Linked DNA regions of Homo sapiens: regions 2 and 3 are each linked to region 1. Evidence: fine-mapped expression QTL. A gene starts in region 1. Each other region holds a variant in brackets. All regions are shown on one strand. Distances are from middle to middle.

Region 1 (8,184 bases):
AGCCTCCAGAGCAGCTGGAACTACAGGCACCTGCCACCACGCCCAGCTAGTTTTTTGTATTGTTTTTTTTAGTAGAGACAGGATTCCACCATGTTGGCCAGGATGGTCTCGATCTCCTGACCTCGTGATCCACCTGCCTCGGCCTCCCAAAGTGATGGGATTACAGGCGTGACCCACCGCACCCAACCTATTTTTTTTGAGATGGAGTTTCACTCTTGTCCCCCAGGCTGGAGTGCAGTGGAGTGATCTTGGCTCACTGCAACCTCCGCCTCCTGGGCTCAAGCAATTCTCCTGCCTCAGCCTCCCAAGTACCTGGGATTACAGGTGCCCACCATCACACCTGACTATTTTTTGTATTTTTAGTAGAGACAGGGTTTCGCCATGTGGGCCAGGCTGGTCTCCAACTCCTGACTTCCAGTGGTCCGCCCGCCTCAGTCTCCCAAAGTGTTGGGATTACAGGCATGAGCCAACCATGCCCAGTCACTTTTTTATCTTCAGTTATTTTTACTTTTTATATATTAATTTCAGAGTATGAAAAAAATCCAGTGGAGTTGCTTTTTAAAGGAAAAATACACACACACACACACACACACACACACACAGAGTCAGCTTCCAATGGCTACGTCTTTACCAACATATGTAACTGGTAATGTGGATAACTCACAATGTAGCTGTTTGTCCCTGAGTTCTGGGCATTAATAAAATCTCCAAGAAAAATAACAAACTACTCTATTAAAGGATAACTATTCAAGACCTCCATCCAGCTCTCTTAGTCTTCTAAACTATGAACACAGCTCATTACCTCTCAAAATGGGCAGGACATCTATCCACAAGGGAACTGATCCACCTGCTGACTCACTGGCTGGCACAGCCCGGCACAGGAAAACCACCTGCAGGGGGTCCTCAAACAATGGAAACTGCACAGCTCTGTATTCATCACAGACCTCCGGCCAGGCCTGACACCCACCCCTGTCTCCAACCTTGCCGAGTCCTCCCCTTTCAACCTTAAACTTCTTCAACTTGGTCCAGTGGAATGGCTCCTTAAATTTCTCTTGTATCTTCACCTTTCCAGGCATGTTTTATGCTTTTCCTAAGAAAGAGAGAGCCTCCTTGCTAAAGTGGACCCCTTTACCAGCATGCTTTATTTCATCCCCTTCTGCCTAATCGTTAGCAGGAGTTTGGCCTCTAAAAAGTCAGAGCAACTAAGTTCAAAGCTACTTCATAGCTGAGTGACCTTGGGTAAGTCACTCATCCCTCTTCCCCTTAGTTTACTCAGCAGAAGCACCAAGATTTCTTGAGGCTTTGGCTTGGAACAGAGTCAGGCTCAGTTCTGCTGTGTTCCAATGGCTAAGGCAAATCAGAGGCCCAGTCCAAACTCAGGGAGAGGGAACCACACAAAACCCTGAGCACCAGCAGGCAGAGGCCACCAGAGTAACAGGCTATTACACACACAATAAGTAAGTGCTCACTAAGCATGGGCTGTCTGTCTTAGCTAATAATTTTGTTTCTTAAATCCAGGAGAGTTGTTTCTACAATGGGTTTTCACCATGTGCAAACCACAGAGAGGGCCTAGAAAGCCATATGTTGCTAAAGAGCACATAGGTCTCATTTTAGAAGATTTAGAGAAACCAGAGGGCAGCCCTAAGCCCCACAGTATGGATTTCTTTATGAAGCCAGCCCAGCCATCCCAGCTGCCATTCTTAAATGACGAACAACCTTGGCAAGGCAGTTGCACCAATCTCAGAGGGCAGGCATATATATGGCAATGGGTCAGTGTTCCCCACTCACAACCATGTTAACATGCAAACCTGTCTCAACACAGCAGGAACCAATCATCATTTCTGCAAAGTGTTGTAGACAACAGATGAAAAATGGTATACACTGTACCGTACTGAAAGAACTTTCAAGGTGCTTGCAGCAAAGTAAGTTTGAAGACAGAAAATAAGCCCATGAAAAAACAGACAGGAGGGTGGGAGATGGAGGACTCAGGACAGAAGTCATCTTATAATCTCCAAAATGTAAGCAGAGTGTGCTGTGTTCATTGTTGATCCCCAGACCCTAGAGTAATGTCCATACATAGGAGAACTGTGTGGAATTGCTCAGAATCATAGGAAGCTAGAACTAACAGGTTATAGGTCGGGCACAGTGGCTCAAGCTTGTAATCTCAGTGCTTTGGGAGGCTGAGGCAGGAGCATCCCTTGAGATAAGGAGTTTGAGTTTGAATCCAGCCTGGGCAACATAACGAGACCCCATCTCTTAAAAAAAAAATGTTTTTAGTATTAGCCAGGCATGGTGGTACACACCTGTAGTCCTAGCTACTTGCAAGGCAGAGGCAGGAGGATCGCTTCAGCCCAGCAGTTCCAGGCTGCCGTGAGCTATGATAGTGTCACTGCACTCCAGCCTGGGCAAAAGAGCGAGATCCTGCCTCTTAAGGCAAAAAAAAAAAAAAAAAAAAAAAAAGAATAGGTTAGAGCTGTTGAAGAGAATAACACTGCAAAAGCAAACTGAATTAACTGTTTTACACATTTATTTAACTCTTTAAACTAAAATGTAGGGGATGATGTGCATTTTTCACATAAATAAGCTTTTCTACTGTGTCCAATTAATGTTTTCCCCTTTAGGTTTATTATTAAAAGGCAGTTCTCTCTCCACACCCTTGGGAACCCAAGGCTAAACCAGGAAGGGCGGGCTCAGGGAGGAGCCAGGAAGTGGAGCTAATTCACCAGTCTGCCACCTGTAGGCTGGTTCCAGCAGACTTAAACCTCAGTGCCCGCTAGACAGACATGAAAACAATGCATATTAAATAATGGTAAAAACTGAGCAATAGATGTGTGAAAACTATATAGAGAGGGGCATTTAAATCATGGCTCCCGTGTGCTTGCCTCCAACCTCCTCTCTTTTCTTTGAATACTCCCAGCTATGACCACACAGTCTGTTGTTCCTATTCAGCTCTCCAAGGCTCACCCTTGATCTAAAATACGCTTCGAAAATTAATACTCCCATTAGGATGAACAACCACACCTGTATCGATCGAGGTGTTCCAGAGGCAATTTTGCTCAGATCTTATGGTAAAAGCCATGCAATGAACTTAAAAAACAAAGACCATTATGAAATAAACAAATAAGCAAAGCTGGACGAATTTTTCAAATTTTAAAACTCAAGAACAAATAGCAAACATTAGTTTTAAAGGATTGGTTTGGATTTCTGTAGATGGAAGTAAAACATACTGAGTTTACAAGCCTATGCGATGTATTTCAGCACGATCCACCAAATGCAGTTACAGATGTCAAGAGTTCTCAGAACAAGTGCCTCTCTTCATAAATATCTGCTCTGCATATATATCTCTCCCATTCCCATAACGTCCATTCTTTGTTAATATAGGAAAAAAACCGACTTTCATCAAAATGCTACAAAACGCCAAAAATTAACTCTTGGGGACAGTCACTTTAATCGAGACGTCTTTCTTCTATGGAGATTTGTTCACCACTGGCTTCTCTGATTTGGTGGTTAAGAGTCTGAAAATCGGTCATCCTTAAGGTCTGGAGCTCAGAAAGCACGCCGCCCCCCCTTGCCTGCCCCCTGCCCCAGGACGCCGGATGCGGGTCGCCTGCCCAGTCCCGTCGCCCACAAACCACGCCGTTCTGGGCGGACGCGGGAAACCAGAAGTCCCCGAAGCCAAGTCAGCGAGCGACCACAGGGGCCGCCCGGCCGATCCCCGATATCCGGGCTGACCCAAAACCCGACGGGAGGCGCCCCTCCCCCGCCCCCCCACCCCACCCCCCACCCCCACCGCCCCCGGTCAGGGCCGCCGCGAGGGTGAGAGGCGCGCCCACATGCTGCTCCGCTCCGGGTTCGGCTCCCACCTCCTCGCCTCGGCCGCGGCCGCTCGGATGGCGAGGTCGTGTCCCCGGCGCGCGCGGTCCCCGGCGCTCCCTCCGGCCGCTGCGGGCTCGGAGGACGGCGGGCGCCTGGCTGCTGTTTCCTCCAAGAAAAGTAACTCCGGGAATCAGCGCAATAGGAGCGGGAACGCGATGCTCCGAGAGCGGCGAGCCGGGCCCTGGAGTTATTCTGCTCGGAGTTTCGAACTGCGCCCCGCGCTGCAGCTACTCGGCCCCGGCGTTGGCCGCCGGAACTTGCCGCCCGCGGTGGCGTCCCGGCGGCCGCAGCGCCTAGCCCCCCCGGCCCGCGCAGTCCCCGGAGCCCGTCCCCGCCTGGTCGCGGACACTCACCGAGAAGCCTGCCCAGAAGGGGCAGGAGTGGCGGACGCGGGCCGAGGTGGTGAGCGCCAGCGCGGCGAAGCTGACTGCCACGATGAGGCATCCGAGCGCCATCTGCGTGGCCCCGAGCGCCAGCACGATGCGGGAGCGGCCCGGGCACTCGCGCAGGCGGGACAGGCTGCGGGGCAGCGCGGCGGGACGCGGCGCTCGGGGGCCGCCGGCCGGAGGCATCGCGCCGGGCGCCCGCACGCCTCGCCCGCTCCCGCCCGGCCCGGCGCGCGCCGCCGCCTCTCCTCACAGAGGGTCCGAGGCAAGTTGCGCCGGGTGCAGGGACGGCCTCCCAGCCGGCTGCCAGGGCTGCGGCGGCCGCGCGCCGGGAGCGGGCCGGGCCGGGCGGGGAGCCGGGCGCCCGCAGCCCCCGCCGGTGCCCGCGCCCATGCCGCCGCCGCCGCGCCGCCCGCCCGCCGGCCGCGCCGCGCTGCGCCCTCCCCCGCCCGCCCCGCGCGCTCCCCGGCCCGAGCGCGGGCGCGAGCCGCCGCCGCTGCTGCCGTACCGGGCGCGAGCCGCTGCCGTCCCCGGGCGCGAGCCCCGCCGCCGTGCGCTGGGCCCCAGCTGGGGCGGGAGCGGGAGCCGGGACCCGGGAGCCGGGAGAGGGGCGGGGAAGGCGCAGGTGCGGTCCTGGCGTCCCAGCCTCCGCGCTCACGCCTCGCGCCCTGGCGGCTGCAGGTCTGCGGAAGGAGAGCGGGGGCGGCAGCGCATCAAGGGCAACGGCATCAGCCTCCGCGGCGGAGCCCTGGGTCGGCTGCGCGGAGGGGCCCGATAGCGGCAGCGGGCCAGCCGAGCCTTCAGAGCCTGGGGACGGCTCGGGATGGGCGCGCGGGGCGCTGAGGACGGGGAGACGGGCTGGGAGCAGACAGGAGGGAAATTCCGAGCGCTGGGCCGCAGGTGTGGCGAACAGGAGCCTCTTGAATGCAAAAATCCAAGATCCAAGATGCTGCTTTTCTGCAGTTCGAGAATCTCCCAAGCCATCCGCTGAGAGAACTCAGCTCTGGAGGACATTCCGAGAACATTGCCAGGACACACACGATGTCCCTTACCCACCTTTGGTTTGCATGCTTTTGATACAAGTTAAAAGTTTGGGCTTTAAAAAAAAATTGCACAAAACGAATTTAAATGCGCAATATCATTAATAACCGATTAAACCATCTCCACTCCCTCTTGCCAACATAGAGTTTAAAATATCTAAGTACTGGCTCCCTTGGAATACCGGGAAATCCTGCAAGTTTTGATTGCCATAATTCCTTTGTGGCCCTGTTGATGAGCCAACTTTAAGACTCTGCTTGTGTTGAAAAGGGCTGCATTGACAGATTAAGAGATCACCAGCGTTAGGGAGTCTGAAGGGACCAGACGTGAAAAGGCAAAGTTCAGAGTAATAAAGGGAAACGGCCGGTCATTTCCTGAGACCATTCTTCCGTGTCTTTCTAGCAGACCTTACTGTTGGATGAGAAACGCTAGAGAGTGTAGTCCCAAAATATCTCGGTTGCTGGTGCTTGAAATTTCACCGTTAGAGATATTGATTCCTTTGGGGCTTGACGATCCTCTATTAAAATGCAAATTCCCCTTGAAGGGGCTATAGCTCAAGCCTTTATCAGCCAACACTTTAGCAGGGATGGGATTTATTTTCCAATTTAACGAGATGGCCAAGGGATGAACAGGGGGTAGGGAATTCCACAGATAGAGTGACTGATCTCAAAATGCTGGCCCGTGGCCAAACGCTGCCTTCTCCCCCAGTTCTTATCTTTAACAGGACTAAGCCTCTGGCCGGCATTGTTTAAAGCACTCCAGTACAAATTCCAATTTCCTGGAGACATTTTCTGCCTAGAAGTTCGCAGTGCAGCACTTTTTAAGAGCTTGAAACAATACAAGGCATGACCCTGGACTGGCAGGAAGTTATGTTCGCATTTGATCATCTCCCCCATTCATTCATTCATTCATTCATCCGTTCATTCATTCCTCCAACAAAAGTTCATAAAGAGCTCTCTAATCATAAGGCTTTTTTTTTTTTTACGTTCTTAGGGTACATCAGTGAACAAAACAGACAAAAATCCCTGCCTTTAAGGGATTCAGAGAGAAACACACAATAGCCTAACAAATTAGTGAATTACAGTTTATTGACATTGTATACTATTCAAAAAATAGTATACACCCACTATGTGCCAGGCACTGAAGATCGAAGAATGAGTTGCAAGCCCCCTGTACTCAGAGAACTTTCGGTCTAGTGGGAAGACTGGCGGCACACTGGGTTCAGTGTTATGGAGACTACACAGTGCCCCCCCAACCCCACCCCCACCAAAAAAAAGGAATCAGATGATAAGGAGATTTGAAAAGAGTTTTCTGACCACAATACCAAAAATGGGTTGAGGGGTGCCCAAGTGAAAGAGTGTTCAGAGGCTGTTACTGTCAGCTGGCAAGAGGTGATAGTGTTTTGGATTAAAGTGGGGTTAGTGGAGATGTCGAGAATTGGGTGTGTTTGGGAGATGTTTCGGAGGTGTCAGTGATGAATTAAACAGAAGGGGGAGCCAGTTGGTGACCTCCAGTGATCTCCCATTTATGAATGAGAGATGCTTCCAAAATATATGTGAATTGATTTGTTTTATTTATTTATTTAAGAAAGGTACGGAAAGAGAGCTCCAAGCAATACAGCAGGAGATTTTGGTGAAGGTGGGTTAGGAGAGGGATCTACTTTCGCTGTAAAATTTCGTTTGCATCCAAAGGGAGAGACTGATCTAGAAATTAAACTTACTTCACATTTCTATCAATGAAAAAGCAGTTTTGTTGATAAAATGAAAACTTTAGACAAATAAATTTAACAGAGTTTACTTAAACAATGAACAATTCATGAATAAGGCAGCCCTCAGAATCATAAGAGGTTCAGAGAACTCCACTCTGCCATGTGGGCAGTGAGTATGTATAGACAGAAAAAGATTGAAGAAAGTAGAAATGAGGAACAAAAAGCAGATTAGTTGTTTCAAAGTTACTTTCCCCATAATGGTTAAAACGGAACTTCCTTATCATGTCTGCTCAAACTGGCCTTTCTGGATATTTGTCTATTCTCTCTCTTCTTTCTCTCTCTCTCTTCTCTCTCTCTCCCCCCCTCTCTCTCTCCCTCTCTCTCTCTCTCTTTCTCTCTGTGTCTGTCTTTCCCCCACCCCTCTTCCTCTCCTTCTCCTGATTTCTCATAAAGTCAGCTAAACAACCGAGTTTCAGCTTGGTGGATTAGGACTTTAGCATGACTGACTCCATTTTAATTTGGTCTGTTGGTGGGAGCTCTGTCCAAATCAATGGCCTCCAAAAATTTTTATTTCATACTATGTTTTACAGAATTTTTTAATCCTGTTGTATTAAATGCAACAGCCAAAGTTACCTTGATGAACACTTGCAATTTGGAGATATAAATAGGGAGATAAAAGTAGTTAAAGTGAGTTGATTTCATGGGAGTGAATCATAAAGAAAGAAAGGAAAGAAGAATGAAAGGGAAGGGAGGAAAAGAACAGAAAGAAGGGAAGGAGAAAGGTAGGGAGAGAGGGTGCTGGCCTGAGCTTAGCCTCCCTGGCACTGATCACGACAACTCATTGACTCTCTTTGATCTTCAGTGTTTGTCTCTTGTAAAAGCATTATAATCATACATGTCCTAGTGTTACAGAAGATTCTTGGAGACCCCTGGAACCAAGTTATGGCTTTTATTCTCCCTGGATCAGATGGGACTAATAGACAAAACCATTGTTCTTTTGGGTTTTGTTTCTTTGTTTTTGTTTTTTTAAAGACAGAGTCTCAGTCTGTCATCAGGCTGGAGTGCAGTGGCATGATCTCAGCTCACTGCAACCTCCACCTCCTGAGTTCAAGCGATTCTCGTGCCTCAGCCTCCTGAGTAGCTGGGACTACAGGCGCACGCCCCCATGCCCAGCTC
Region 2 (8,184 bases), 170 kb before region 1:
ACACCTGTAATCTCAACACTTTGGGAGGCCGAGGTGGGCAGATCACTTGAGGTCAGGAGCTCGAGGACAGCCTGGCCAACATGGTGAAACCTGTCTCCACTAAAAATACAAACAATTAGCCAGACATGGTGGTATGTGCCTGTAGTCCCAGCTACTCAGGAGGCTGAGGTAGGAGAATGTCTTGAACCCAGGAGGCAGAGGTTGCCGTGAGCCGAGATTGTGCCACTGCACTCCAGCCTGGGCGACAGAGTGAGACTCCATCTTAAAAAAAGGAAAAAAAAATTTACTCAGAAAAACACCTTATAAGTAAGTAATCAATAAAATGCAAAGTGGAATAAGAGGTCCCTTGCTGCCTGTCAAGCTAGCAGTGGTTAGAAAGAACAGTGGTCCTCACTTACAGGGCTGTAGAGAATGTACATCATTAAGAGGTGCGATGCTGTCAACTGGCAAAAAGTATAATAAACAAAGCATGGGCTCTATGCAAATAAATTCAAAACCCAGGATGACAAAGATAACTTGCTAAATTACTACAATTGATTCCCCAAAAGACCAAAACACTAACTGTTCCCATAAACACCAAGAAATTGGAAATATGCTCAAACAGCTGTAGGCAAAGTCTTCAAAAACTTCTACGTATGAAGATTTCCAAAGCTGTTTAAATTTTTTCTGAGCACAGAGGGAAAAAAGGGGGAACTTCCAAATTGTCTTTATAAAGGTCAGTGTAACAATCACAAACCTGTAAAATATCACAAAAATAAGGAACAGACCAGTGGCTTTTAAACAGAAGTACATTGTTTTTATTTTATTTTTCCTGTGCTGGATCAATATTTAATGAATTTCCCCCATGTATCAGGCATTGTTGGACTCTTTCAGATATTTAACTCCTTCCCCCTCATTATTTATTTGGCAAAAGTTACATTAAGTTATTCCCTCCCCTCACAAAGCAGGTTCTCCCTGACTTCAAGGGCCAACATCCAAACAAAACCAAACATGAAAGACAGAGACTCAAAAACTTAGCATTCCTCATCTACTACACATACTAGATATAAACACACAAATTTAAATGCCAAAAACTCATAGGACAGTGCATTAAAATGATAATTTTACTGGTACATCATTTTTAAATAAAAGGTTAGAAAACAGAATTCAGCAGTACATTTAAAAGAATGAAGAACATGGGGGTTCACGTCAGGAATGAAAAGATGGTTCTGCATATTAATGTGACGAAAATGAAAAATTCTTTCATTCAGTAGATGCATGGAAGACGTCCAATAGAATTTGATCTCCATCCTCTCTTTTAAAAAAGAACTCTTAGGGCTGGGGGCAGTGGCTCACACCTGTAATGCCAGCACTTTGGGAGGCCGAGGCTAGCGGATCACTTGAGGTCAGGAGTCCTAGACCAGCCTGGCCAACATGGTAAAATCCTGTCTCTACTAAAAATACAAAAATCAGCTGAGTGTGGTGGCACATGGCTATAGTCTCAGCTACTCGGGAGGCTGAGGCAGGAGAATCACTGGAACCCGGGAAACGGAGGTTGCAATGAGCCAAGATCACGCCACTGCACTCCAGCCTGGGTGACAGAGCGAGACTCCGTCTCAAAAATAAAATAAAATAAAACAAAATGATTCTGAAAGTACTCGTGTGGTATGCAGAATTATGAGATGGCCCCCAAGGTCCCCACTCCCTGGTGTACCTGCCCTGTGTAATCCTCTCCCTTGGGCCGTGGGTGGGACTGTGAATATGTATGTGATTAGGTTACGCTGCCTGACAATGGTGGATGGGAGGTCCCAAATCAGTTTGCTGTTGAGTTCATCAAAAGGGAAGTTCTCTTGGGTGTGCCTGACCTAATCAGGCAAGACCTTTGGTTCTGGGCCCTTGGTGAAGTCCCAATTTGAGGTGTAAGAAGTTGTGCTGCTGGCCTTGAAGAAGTGGGCTGCCATGTGGTGAGATGCCTCTAAGAGCTGAGAGCTTCCCCACCCACAGCTTGCAAGGAAGCAGGGCTGAGTCACACAACCCCCAAAATGAATTCTGCCAACAACCTGAAGGAGTTTGGAAGTGGATCTTTCCCTCGTAAAGCTTTTGGATGAAGATGCTTCCAGCCTCACCAGGATTTCAGCCTGCAGACCCTGAGGACAGGACCCAATTAAAACACTCCAGAGTCCCAACCCTTAGAAACTCTGAAATAATAAGGTTGAGCTGTTTGAACCTGCTATGCTTGTGGCAATTTGCCACATAACAATAGAAAACTAATATATCTAGCTAATAACACTAAAAAGGAAAAATAAAAGAAAGTTATAAACATTGGAAAGAAGAAGCAAAATCATTACTATTTGAAAATAAAGTGATCACCTAATTAGAAAACCCAAAGGAATTGATTCAGAAGAATAAGAAACCATAAGAAAATTCAGTATGTTACCTGGTTACAAAATCAATATGTTGAAAATTATAATACTATATATAGTTGTCCCTTGAACAAGAGGGGTGTTAGGGGCACCAACCTCCTGTGCAGTCAAAAATCTATGTATAACATTTTCACTCCTCCAAAACTTAACTGGTAATAGTCTGCTGTTGACTGGAAGTCTTACCAATCAGATAAACAGTTGATTAACACACATTCACATTTTGGATGTCGTATGTACTATATGCTGTATTCTTACAATAAAGAGAAAAGAAAATGCTATTAAGAAAGTCATAAGGAAGAGAAAATATATTTTACTATTCATTAAGTGGAAGTGGATCATCATAAAGGCCTTCATCCTTGTCATCTTCTTGTTGAGTAGGCTCAGGAGGAGGAGGAGGAAGAGGAGGGCTCAGTCTTGCCATTTCAGGGTGGCAGAGGTGGAAGAAAATCCACATATAAGTGGACCTATGCTGTTTAAACGCATGTTGTTCAAGGTCAACAGGATCAATATTTATTGTGCCCTGAATATATGCCAGATATACTTACTAAGTTTTTATACTTTATCCTGACAACCCTAATTAGTATGTGTGACTCTTGTGCCCGTGCACATATGTGAAAATTAAAGCACAAAGAGATTAAGTGACTTGCCCAACGTTACAATGATGGGCAGGGTTAGGACACAAGCTCTTAAACTATAGACAAACAGCTTTCCTACATATGTGCAAGCAAAGACTGGTTAGAAAAGAGAATACAATTAAAAATTCCATTTATAATGGTAAGCAAAAAGGCAGAATATCTTAGAATACACAGATTTAATAAGAGGTGAGCAGGAGCAATATCAAGGAATCCTTAAACATCTACTGGGGAACCTAAAAGACTTCATGACTAGATGGGAGGGAAATTCATTTTTTAAACAAAAAGACTAAATAATGTATAAGTTCCATGCAACTCTAATTAAAATACCAAAAAGGGGAAAAGAAAATCTACGCAATAAGAAGTGCTAGGGCAACTGGCTAGCCACTTGGAAAGAAATGAAACTTAATCTCTACGTTTCAACATTAAAATAAATTCCAGAGAAATCAAAGAGTAAAATATAAATTAAAACATAAATATTTGAGAAATTTGTAAAAGAATCTTGAAGTAAGCCTTTTAAGGCACCACACAATTTTAAGACATAATAGAAACAATTAATAAATTTAAAATGTATACGTTTATGGCTAAAAAAACCCACATTTGTTTGTGGTAGGAGGAATCTGTGTTCTCAATCCCAGGGCCTCTCTGCATCTGCATTAGAAGAACAAGTCTGTGCCTTTGACGTGTGAGGTCGGAGGCTCCTGCAGAGTGGGTGGAGTCCCGTCCCCATCCCAGAATAAACTTGGCCATGGGATATGCCTGGTGGTGAGTGGAAGTGGCACATGCCATCGCCCCGGGCCTTCTGATGCACTACGTGCTACCTCTTGCCCTCCTCCTTGCCCAGGTGGCCACTGCCCCTTCAAGCCTGGGCCCCGGAATGGACAGATGGCACAGACACAAACCCCATGAGAAGCTTGCAACCCAAAGTGGAGCCACCCCAGCTGACCTGCAAACCCAGAGGAGAAAATAATGGCTCGCTACTGTCAAGCACTGCATTTTGGTGTGGTTTTTAATGTAGCATTATTCTGAAAAGGGCCAATGAACACATTTATGGTTAAAAAAAACCCATAAAACCAAAGGCTGGTTTCAAATAGGAAAAATATTTATAATACATAAACAGACAAAAGGTTTTCTTAATTTACAAAGAGCTCGTATAAATTAATAAAAGAAACAACAGAAAAAAATGGCTGAATACGATGAATAGGATGTTTAGATTTTTAATGAACAATAAACATGTAACAGAATGCGTAGACCTACTGAATTTTCTAAAGCAAGTGAAAACAATAAGATAAGTATTTTTTTCAACGAGACTGGAAACATTTTGGTGAAGTTTTGGTAAAACCCAGTGATGGCAAAGGGCAGAGGGGAAAGAAAGTTCCTCTTAAACATTTCTTATGTTGGCATAATTTGATGTAGCCTTCCTTGGGAACAATTTCATAGCATCTCTCAAAATAAAAACTGTACATACCCATACTCAATGGTTTCAATCCTGGGAATTTAACCTGTGGATATACTAACAGAAACAGGCCAGCCTATTTACACAAGGACGTTTACTACAAAAACCTGAACCAGTGAGTAGCAATAAAGGGCTAGTTAAAAAGACTTCGGTATTTACATAGAACATGAATATGTGCATTATAAAGTTTGAGGTAGATCTATTTATGCCAC[T/G]GTGGAATGATCTCGAAGATAAATAACTGACAAGCAAGACACAGCCCAGTGTGCACTGAAGGATCTCTGTGTAAACAAGAAGGAATGGATGAATGCATTTACTACATAAACATTGCTCTCTTGGAACGACGCACAAGAAACCTAACAATCGGAAACTAGATTAAGGAGGAGGCGAGGGGGAACTTGCTTTTAAATGTGTAACTTTCTGTAATATTAACCTTTAATCCATGCATGTATTATGTTAAGCATATTTAAAACTCTGCATACCATTGAACCTAGAATTCTACTTCTAAGAATTCCCAGTATTAACCAAAGGATTATGTATTTTGGAAACTGGAAACAACCGAGGTGTGCAGCAAGAGGGAATTACATATATTCATTGGGTCCTTCCTAGTTGCTGCCATTAAATCATATTATAGAAGAATATATATATATATACACACACATATATATGTATATTGTATTGTGTGTGTGTGTGTGTGTGTGTGTGTATATATGTATATTGGAGACAAGGTCTCCCTCTGTAGCCCAGGCTAGAATGCAGTGGCATGATCACAGCTCACTGTGACCTCCACCTCCCATGCTCAAGTGATCCTCCCATTTCGGCCTCCCGAATAGCAGGGAATACAGGCATGCATCACCCGGCTGATTTTTGTATCTTTTGTAGAGAGAGGGTTTCACTATGTTGCCCAGGCTGGTCTCGAACTCCTGGCTCAAGTGATCCCCTCGCTGTGGCCTCCCAAAGTGCTGAGATTAAAGGTGTGAACCACTGTGCCCAGCCACAGGAGAATATTTAATGCCATGTAGAAACGTTCACACTAAGTGAAAGAAGAAGAAGGAAAAGCAGGTTGCAAAATGGTGTGGAAAGTGCATAATTTCCCTTCTGAGAAGCAAACAAATACATAAAGAAAATCAGCAGCTGCATCTCAAAGTTACCATGGTTATCTCCAGACAGTGAGATTTTGGCTTCCTCTTTATTTTTCTGTTTCCCATGGTTGATACACAACAGAGAAAACGCACTATTAAAACCCAAGCCAGCGACAGCTGGTTCTGCCTCCTAAGTGAGGAGGCATAACCCATGCCAGTGGGTACTAACTCCCTCTAATGTTCCCATCAGCAGGCGGGAGAGGTGGACGGGGCCAGACAAATTCCACCACTTCAATGTGAGGGCCGATGGCTTCAGAACAGGTATGGAAAGGCTCTGGAAACAATGGCGGCCAGTCTGAGTGAGAGGCAGCAAACCAGAATCCCTGCACAGTGACGGGGTCCAAGGTGGCAGGATGACCAACAAGGTGTGTAGGGGAGGGACGGGGCCTGATCTGCACAGAAAGTGGTTAGCCAGGTGGCCATGTACACTTCTATGTGGGCTGCTGCTCCTTGATAGAGAATAATGAGAATTTCAGACATAAATGCAAGCTACAAGAATAAATTCCAACCAGGACCCAAACGTATTCAAGAGCCTCTGCCCCCCTCCCTTTCTCAACCCATTGTCAGAAAAAAGTATGAAGTGGGAAGGTAGATTGCCCTGCTTGAAAAAGAGTATTACATAAACCATTTGCAAATGACTTTTATTCTCTTCTTTTAGAAATCTCCTCATGGCACAATAATAAAAACAATGTATTTGTTGATACAGAACATTAATTCCATTAAAATTGCATTATGTGTAATGAAAAGCTATCAGAGTATAATTATGCAAGCAAATTCACAGACTCACATCAACTTTTAAATCCACTGGAACTATACAATAGGAACTGAAGCTGTCTGGTAGACAAATTGCTCTTTCTTTTCCAAATCATTATGAATAAAGGCCACTGTACTAATGTCATAAACCGCACACTATTTATGCAAACTCTCAAATCCAGGACTGTTCCCTAGAGGTGCCTCTGCCTGGTTTTTCCCAGGACCAACCTGTTCTCAGACCCAGAGGCTGTGCTCCCATTCCTGACTTAGCCCCAAAGCAGGCTCCCTTCTCGGAATTCTTGCCCAGAGAGCCCAGTTGTACCCTGAAGGGAGCCTGGTTGCACCCCCAAAGGGTTGCCTGAATCCGCACACTCTCAGCCCTCTGCCCCAGCCTGGGAGCTGTGCTCTGCTCTGCTGCCCCTGGCTGGCCGCTGCAGGGCCCGCAGGCTGCTCTCCCTCCTCCCTGCTGCAGGTACTGCACCCAGGTGGCCCTCCTGCCATCTCTGCTCACACCAGGCAGCGCCACCCACAGAGACTGGAGTGCAGAGCCCATCTCCTGTCCCCACGAGGTTCTGAGAGGAGGCAGAGGGCCACCAGGACAGGGGAGGAAGGGGGCACGAGGCTGGATTCCTGCAAGGGCACAGGAGTACATCCAGTGCCGCCCACTCCCGCTGATGATAGCCCCGGTGAAAAGACACACCCTGGGAAAGGGACTCAGTCTATGCCCCTCACTCATCACCTATGTCCATCCCTGGGTTTAGACACTTCTAGGATCCCCAAACACAGTAGGGATATGGACAACTCGTGCCATGCTGGTGACATGAAGGGAACCCCCCCATCTGACTAAGTGGTCCCAGCACCCTTGTAATAGCCGTCTCCACTCCCCAGTCCTGCTCCCCTTTCCCCTCACTGGCACAGGCAGAACTCCCCTGTCTGGTCAGTTCTGGGTCGCTGAGTCCCAGGAACCCCCTTCAGCACCCAGCAGGCTGACACTGATCTTACTCCTGCTTTGCAGAAGGAACACCCTCCTGCCTTGGCCGCCCCCTTGCTTCCTCCCCCACTCACACTCCCCAGCTGCTCGTTAGTAAGGGCTCCCTCGGCCCATCATCTCCCCATACCTCCCCTCCCCTCCTCGCAGTATCTATCCTGGGAGAGCCTGTTCCCTCCCTGGCTCCATCCTCCAGGGTACCCTAAGCCTCTCTCAGCCTCTCTTCCTCCCAGATCCCTGTGTCCACCCACTGGCCTGATGGAAACATGACGGATGCCTCCCCAGCAGCCTAACTCAATACAGCCAGTGCTCCTGGAGCCTGCCCTACCTCCACAGGAGGCCCCACTCACCCAGATGTGCCTGTCAGGGTCCCAGATACCCCACGTCCCTCCCCCACCCAATCTCACTCTCAAATCCATCCAAATCAGGGACATCTACTGACCAGCTCACCCTGGGCCCCGGCCCCCAGTTCCTCCCTCCACCTGGTACCTGGCTGCCACCTGGCAGGAGAGCTACTGTAAGAGCCCTACAAAGCCCTCCCTGCCTGGACTCCTGGTCACTTCTAACCTGTTTTCCACACTGCAGAATCATCTTTTTAAAATGCAAACCTGGCTGGGCGTGGTGGCTCACACCTGTAATCCCAGCACTTTGGGAGGCCGAGGCGGGCAGATCACCTGAGGTCAGGAGTTCGAGACCAGCCTGGCCAACATGGTGAAACCCTGCCTCTACTAAAACTATAAAAATTAGCCAGGCATGGTGGCATATGCCTGTAATCCCAGCTACTCAGGAGGCTGAGGCAGGTGAATCGTTTGAA
Region 3 (8,184 bases), 150 kb before region 1:
GCCACCAACCCAAGAGAAGAAAATGAGTCCTGGAGAAGAAAATGGGAACAGAAAGATAACCTACTAGAGCTGAGCTGAGTCAGTATTACTGAGAGGCTATTGCAAGAGGAGCTATTGATTAAGGCGAGGCAAGTACTGACTTCAAGAGTAAGTTAGTGAAAGTGAACATACCACTCTACACAGCTCTGCAGTGAATAATATCTGCATAGGTATAAATCCAAATACTGACTAAATTAAACTTGTAACATACCCACTCTGGAGGATGAGGAAGGGGAACCAGAGAGAAAATGAAAAGCTAAATCCTCACTGCCATAATTAGAAACCTACAATGATATCTACAACCAATTAATCAAAGATAGCAGAATTTGTATCTTATTTAGAAATGTGGAGACGTAGTAAGTCCCAGGGAAAAAAGCTGAATTAAAAGTAGTTGCCTCTGCACAAGTTAGAGCAGGGAACTACTGGGTTTTCCTATTTGCTATTTGACTTTTTAAACTATGTTTTCATTTCATTAGATGACATAAAAATTAACTTTAAAAACACATAGACATGAATATTTTTCCTTAGTAATATGAAACTTACAATGCTCAAACTACGTAACACTAGCATCTATAAAACCTACAGGAAAACAGCTGATCATTTTACATTTAACTTCTTTTAATATAAAGAGAGCTTACTCTCCTAAATTAAGCCAAAACTCCCAGATCTCTCAATTTTTCATGGTGCCATGGGAAAAAGCAAATCTGATGTTTCTACCCTCAAAATACCAAAAGGATTAACATCAGCTAATTTCTTCAATTATGACTTCATGAGTAACGGACTCTAAGTCCTGGACAGCAGCCAACATCCTGCCAGATGCTAAAGACAGCATGGTGGAGGCCTGAAAGAGAACTCAGAATGAGGACATGGGGCCGGGCACGGTGGCTCACGCCTGTAATCCCAGCACTTTGGGAGGCCGAAGCAGGTGGATCACCTGAGGTCAGGAGTTCAAAACCAGCCTGGCCAACATGGTGGAACCCTGTCTGTACTAAAAATACAAAAAATTTAGCCATGCATGGTGGTGGGCACCTGTAATACCTGTTACTCTGGAAGCTGAGGCAGGAGAATTGCTTGAACCCAGGAAGCAGAGGTTGCAGTGAGCCGAGGTCGCGCCATTGCACTCCAGCCTGAGCAACAAGAGTGAAACTCCGTGTCAAAAAAAAAGAAAAAAGAAAAAAAGAAAAAAAAGAATGAGGACATGGCCACTGACTGGTGCTGAGCAGGTTATCTCTCACCCAGGATGGGGACCCCACATACCATTATCTGCTCTCCTGCCTCTCCGGGGGCTCAGCAACACTATGGCAGTGGACTTTGAATTACAGAGCAGAAAGAAAGGTTAAATTCTTGGACTTGAATAAAGAGAACGGCAGGGTAAACTCTAGGAGTTTGTAGGGGGAAAGTCAGCAAGTTTGCGTGTTAAATAAGGGTAGAGTACAAGACAACTATCCCAGTGGCTGTAAGGCCAAAGAACTCTGAGGCTCTGTAATGTCGGAAGTTGCTGGCTCTCTGCTATGCAAGGTAACCCTACCCCCACCCTCTACCATCTCACCTACAAAATCATCAGTAAATTTATCTGGACAAAGATACCTTTGTAAGAGTAGACCAGGGTGGAGTGAAGGTGACAAGGACTCACAAAGGTTTTGAGTGTGAAACTTAGGTAAGAGAGAAAGAACAGTGCTGAGACAGCCCCTGAGCATGATGGATCCAGGGGGATGGAACTTGTACTCCATGGAATTAGAAGTAAGTATGGAGAGAGTTTGGGACATTGTGGCCAATGGAACCGGTGTACCTAAGAAGGCTAGGGGATCAAGATGGAATCTGAGATGCAGAATCCAATGTATAATTTCGGGATAGGTGAGTGTGTCTTTAATGTTTTACAAAATATTAGTTTATCAAAGAACACATATAAAAATGGGTTCCACGTCAACGAGGTCTGAAAACATGACATAGTATACCCTTTTCATGCAGAGTCACGGTGCACATGAGAATAACACAGTCAAGCTAAAATGCACACCACAGGAAAGAAAATGCTTCAACCCTGAATAACCCCGCCTGCCCCAAATGTGACCTTGGAATCTTTTTAACTCAGAATACACATTTAACATCTTGTATACACAGTTGTTTACTATACATGTTAGTGAAAATGCTGGCATAGGAAATTATAGTGGGAATTCAGAGAGAGATAAGTTAGGGTTTTTTTCCTTCACAATGAAAATTCCTTCTTCTGACTATACATATAAATAGTACACCCTAATGCTGCTAAATTTAGTTAACATGAAAAATTCTAGAGAAGAATGTAAAATTCACCCACACCACCATACACAAAGATAAACCAATGGCAATGTTTAAATGTATTCATACCTAGATTTTTTGGTTTACAAAGTTTATTTGGGCCGGCGCGGTGGCTCACGTCTGTAATCCCAGCACTTCAGGAGGCCAAGGCGGGCGGATCACGCGGTCAGGAGATCGAGACCATCCTGGCTACCACAGTGAAACCCCATCTCTACTAAAAATACAAAAAAAAAAAAAAAAATTAGCCGGACGACGTGGCGGGCGCCTGTAGTCCCAGCTACGCCAGAGGCTGAGGCAGGAGAATGGCGTGAACCTGGGAGGCGGAGGCTGCAGTAAGCAGATATCGCGCCACTGCACTCCAACCTGGGCGACAGCGAGACTCCGTCTCAAAAAAAAAATTTGATTTTTTTCTAAGGACTCCGTTCACAGTACACAGTTTTTCCTTTAAAAATATATCACAGACGTATGTGGACACCCATCCTCCAATGATGTACATTCAGACTATCTCAATGGGAAAAAAAATGAGGCTTACATTGTGTCCGCAATTTATTCTTCCCCGTGGGTTCTTGGTCTTGCTGACTTCAGGAATGAAGGCGTGGACCCTCACGGTGAGTGTCACAGCTCTTAAAGATGGTGTGTCTAGAGTTTGTTCTTTCAGATGCGTCTGGAACTTTTTCCTTCCCACGGGTTTGTGCTCTCACTGACTTCAGGAAGGAAGCTGCAAACCCTCAATGTGAGTTATAGCTCATAAAGGTAATGCAAACCCAAAGAGTGAGCAACAGCAAGCTTTATTGCCAAGAGCAGCAAAAATACAAAACCTCTGCACTACCTAAGTGGACCCCATGGGGCTCCCACCGCTGACTGGGTGGCTTTTGTTCCCTTATTTGGCCCCGCCCACATCCTGCTGATTGGTCCATTTTACAGAGCGTTGATTGGTCCCTTTTACAGAGTGCTGATTGGTCCCTTTTACAGAGTGCTGATTGGTGTGTTTTTATAGAGTGCCGATTGGTGCATTTACAATCCTTTAGCTGGACACAAAAGTTCTCCAAATCCCCACCTGACCCAGAAGCCCAACTTGGCTTCCTCTTTTAATATTGCTATTGACTCTATTCTGCCCAGTCTGGGTAGGCGCCAACCTCTCAGGTGAAAGGAGCACAAGAGAAGGTAAAGGCTGTCTTGACCTGTAGTGACCCAACACCAGGTCATCCACAACAGGGAGAAGAGGTACTGAGAGGGGCCCTGCAAAGTCCTGGTTTATTTATTCCGTTGGTAACCATGAGGCAGAGGAGACACACCAGGCAGTGCCCCAGGAATCCTCAAGCTCACAGCTTTTTCAACACATTTCCTTTTCTTTACAACTGGAGTCTTTCTGAAAGTTGTCTTCTGCACAAATTGCTACCAAAATCCTCGCCAGTGTCTCTCCCACTGCAGGC[A/G]CAAGACCAGCAAGCCTTATCATGTCTGTGTCTCCAAGTATCTTGTTCTTGCTGACCAAGTCATGGTTTTCTAATTCTACTGACACAGTACATTCTATTTCCATCATCAAAACCCATCAGACAGATGACAGATCTGCAAACACCATAATGGGGTGATTATACTTTTATGACTAGTTTTTGTTGTTGTTGTTTTGTTTTTGTTTTTTGAGATGGAGTCTCGCTCTGTTGCCCAGGCTGGAGTGCAGTGGCATGATCTCCACTCACTGCAAGCTCCACCTCCAGGGTTCACGCCATTCTCCTGCCTCAGCCTCCCAAGTAGCTGGGACTACAGGCACCCACCACCACGTCCAGGTTTTTTGTTTTTTTTTTTGTATTTTTTAATAGACATGGGGTTTCACTGTGTTAGCCAGGATGGTCTCGATCTCCTGACCTCATCATCTGCCTGCCTCAGCCTCCCAAAGTGCTGGGATTACAGGCTGAGCCACCACGCCTGGCTTTTTATGACTAGTTTTAAATCTTCTTTATCCTGTTTGGAGTTATATTTTTGTATTGCATTCTATTTGATCATACGTGGACAGTCCTACTTTCCTTTACTTGGCCACTGCCAGATAGCTCTTTGCCAATGCCCTGGTCTGTTATTTTAAGCTATTTGTGTTTGTTTGTTTGCCAATAGTATCTATCTGATTTTTGCTTTTTACCCCAATCTAAAAGTGCTGTCTTTTAATAGAGGAAATTAAGTAACACCTTTAGCGTGGTAGCTAACATAACTGAATTATTTCCTAGCTTATTTACTATATTTCCTTAATTTTTGTTTCTCTAATTTTCCTGTCTTTTGCTATTTTGTTCAATTTTTGTTGTTTGCTTTTTCTAATGATTTGGAAATTATATATCAATTTTCTAACCAAAATTTTAAATCTATGTTTGAAATTATATATCTAATAAGTATATATCAATAGCATAGATATCTATAGTCTCTATGCAACATGGCAAAATTTTCTACCTCAACCTGCCTCCCAGATTTTATCAAAACAACCACATTAGTGTCAACAATTCAAACTTAACTTTATGTTTCATTGGTTTAATTGCTTACTTCTGCAGTATTTATACCAATGCTTCCTGTTTATCTTTAATAACTAAATATAATTATTAAATTTATATAATTCTATAAATTATTGAATTTATATAATTATTACATAAAGATAATTGATTATTTTAATAATTAAATAATTGATTTATTTTAATAACAAGTAAAGGTATTAAATATTTAATAATAATTTTCCTCATTTGGCTTGTGCACTACAAGTCATTTCCTTTATTCAGAAATGGTATGCAGAAATTTGGAGTCCACTGTATTTCTGAAAATCACTTTCATGTACCCATTCACATACATGAGCTTAGAAATCTTGCATACAGAAAGCCTAGAGGAATCTTGCTTAACAACCTGTTCCTTCTAAAATATGCAAATGTTGCTGCATTATCTTCTAGCATTTGACTTTATGGATTAAAATCTAGTATTAATGTGATTATTTTCTGTAGCCTGCTTTGTCTTGTTTAACGCTTATCTTTGATTTTTTTTGATTACTGAAATTCAGAAAATGTTCTATTACATGAATCAAACCTAAAACAAAAACATCTCCTATATGCCTGTCTGACGTCTTACATGTATCTTCCATGACCTTTAGCTTTTCTCTCCTAATTTCCCCATCTTGTCTCATTCCTCTCAGTTGAAAAATAGATCCCCCAGGTGATATCCTAATTCACTAATCCAATGTTGGTCATCTGGTTTCCTTCTCACAGTAACATTTTCGTGTCCTCCGTCTGCCTCCACTGCACTTGACAGTCTCTTCTTTTGCAATGTGGCACCTCTCAGATCTCACAGGTCATAAGCCAGAGTTGTTTTGAAGTTTTATTCCATTTCTCTGTTTCACTGTGTGCCATTTACTCCATTGGCTTTTGGAGTTGGTATGTGATATATCCTAAACATTCACAAATACTTCAAAATGCTATGCACACTGGGCGCCGAGTGGTCAGTGTGATGCCCAAAGCTTGGGGCAGTGCATTACATACAGAAGTAGAAGAGAATTGTCCAATCAGAATTAAACATGATGGCTTTGACCTACTGTCTGCAGGAAATAAGTGATGAGAGAAGGCCAAAGAAAACTGTAGCCATGTGGCCTCCAGATGGACCTTATTATCTTATGGGTGCTTGGTTTCTTTTTGTTCTTTGACCCTAGGTGATTTATTTTGTTATATTTAAAGCAAACTAGCAATTTCTGCTCTATAATTAAAAGTATGTGTATGTCTTTATAAACACTGAGTATATATACTATTAATTGCTGTTGTTATTTTTCCATTCTCAAAGCTTTCCAGGCCTAATCGTTATCCTGCAACAACTTTCAAAGAAGTGAGAGCAATGATTTCCTCTCCTCCACTGTTCATACGAATCATGGAGAAGCGGGGTTGAAAACGAAGACTGCCTGAGCCCCAACCCCCGGAGTCCAACTTGGGGTACCTGAGATATAGCCCTATCTGTTAGTTTCCTATTGCTGCTGCAACCAATGACCAAAAACTCAGTGGCTTAAAACAATACAAAATTATCACCTTTCAGCTTTTGAGGTCAAAAGTCCAAAATGGGTTGGGTTGGTAGGACTGAGCTCCTTCTGGAAGCTCCAGGGGAGAGTCCCTTTCCTTGCCTTCTCCAGCTTCCAGAGACTGCCCTCAGCCCTTGGCTTGTGGCCCCACTGCACTCCTGAGTTCTGCTTCCATCCTCGCCTCTCCTTCTCTGACTCTCCTGCCTCCCTCTTTCCCTTATGAGGGCCCTTGTGACTACCTTGAACCCATTCAGATACCCGGCATAACCTCCCCATCTCCAAACCCATAACTTCACCACATCTACAAAGCCCCTTTTGCCATGTAAAGTAATACATTCATAGGTTCCAGCGATTAGGAAGGACGTGGACATCAGTGGGGTTGGGGGTACGAGTCTCCCTATACACCCAGAAACCTGCACTTTGAACAAGAACCAGCAGACTGCCTGGTGAGAAACACCAAATCACACCCACTACATGGTGGCTGGAGCTTTTTCCTTTAGGACACTCTTCAGACCCATCACCTTAAAAGTCCGAAACCAACAGAGTGATAAATATCATAATATAAACAAAACACCATCCTTGACAATTTATTAAGATAAAATATTGCAGTATGTACCTAGACCTACCCAGAATTCATTTTTAAGTGGAAAGTTAAATGACAGAACAGAAATGTCTAAGAATCATTGGGGAAAAATACAAGTCAAACCCAAAGCCAAGTCCACTTTCCACAGCAGAATCAAGATGACACCCTGTGGAGACTCCGATACACTCAAAAAACATACTTCCATGTTTGTTTGTTTGAGACAGAGTCTCACTCTATCGCCCAGGCTGCAGTGAAGTGGTTCGATCTTGGCTCACTGCAACCGCTGCCCCATGGGTTCAAGCGATTCTCCTGCTTCAGCCTCCCGAGTAGCTGTTATTACAGGTGCTCGCCACCACACACGGCTATTTTTTTGGATTTTTAGCAGAGATGGGGTTTCACCATGTTGACCAGGCTGGTCTTGAACTCCTGACCTCAGGTGATCCACCCTCCTTGCACTCCCAAAGTGCTGGGATTACAGGTGTGAGCCACCGTGCCCAGCCACTTCCATGTTTTAAAGCTTCACTTTTCCATCTGTCTTAAGCTCTTTTCCCAAAAAAAAAAAAGTAAAATTTCTGAATTGTTTAAATACATTATTAGGAAACAGAACTTAAAAGGCCAGTCCTCTTAGTACATGCCCAAATTCCAAATGTGTCACTATTTCTATAATAAATAGCGCCAGCACTGACAGACTTCATAATGCAGGGTTTCCTGTGCTGCCATTCACCAGCACACACAAAAGTGAGAGTAATGAAAATGTCAGGAAACGGCATCCCATTTAGAAACCAGGAAATACAAAAATGCAGCTATCAGTCATCCCTAAGGCTGGCCAAATAAAAGGTTTTAAATATAGTCACGGATCACCAGTGTCACAAGCAACAACATTCACTGCACAGAGAGGCAGCAGAATTTGCAGCATTGAGGATTTGCTGGGTGGCTGATGAGATCTGCCCACTTTGAACTTGCTCTCAACTGACATACCCAGATCTATTTTTACATTAGCTGTCAAAATGATAGGTCTCCTGCATCCTATGCCTGCACTGTTAATTATCTATCTGCCTATCTGTCTATCCATCCATCCATCCATCTTGAGATGTCTATCTATCCATCCGTCCATTCATCTATCTTGAGATGTCTATCTGTCCATCCATCCATCCATCCATCTTGAGATGTCTATCTATCCATCCATCCATCCATCCATCCATCCATCCATCCATCCATCTATCTTGAGATGGGGTGTTGCTCTGTG

Alleles and levels. Alleles are on the strand shown, and positions count from the first base shown. SD is a standard deviation of normalised expression in the study named. Not every link is listed here.
In carriers of allele G in region 3, the expression in thyroid of the gene that starts at base 4,704 in region 1 tends to be higher than with A alone (small effect, 0.28 SD a copy in GTEx).

Evidence for each region.
Region 2: its variant is fine-mapped to the expression of ENTREP2 in thyroid (GTEx, PIP above 0.99).
Region 3: its variant is fine-mapped to the expression of ENTREP2 in thyroid (GTEx, PIP above 0.99).

What each region holds. Positions count from the first base shown.
Region 1 is chr15:29,566,276-29,574,459 of GRCh38, forward strand. ENTREP2 (endosomal transmembrane epsin interactor 2) reads right to left here and starts at 4,704. Exons shown (of 11, transcript NM_015307.2): 1 at 4,230-4,704. The coding sequence starts at 4,448.
Region 2 is chr15:29,397,127-29,405,310 of GRCh38, forward strand. All of the region lies in intron 1 of ENTREP2 (endosomal transmembrane epsin interactor 2), which reads right to left. Among named protein-coding and RNA genes, the nearest start is that of NSMCE3, 130 kb to the left of the region's middle. The variant T/G (reference allele first, on the strand shown) is at 4,703.
Region 3 is chr15:29,421,077-29,429,260 of GRCh38, forward strand. All of the region lies in intron 1 of ENTREP2 (endosomal transmembrane epsin interactor 2), which reads right to left. Among named protein-coding and RNA genes, the nearest start is that of ENTREP2, 150 kb to the right of the region's middle. The variant A/G (reference allele first, on the strand shown) is at 3,765.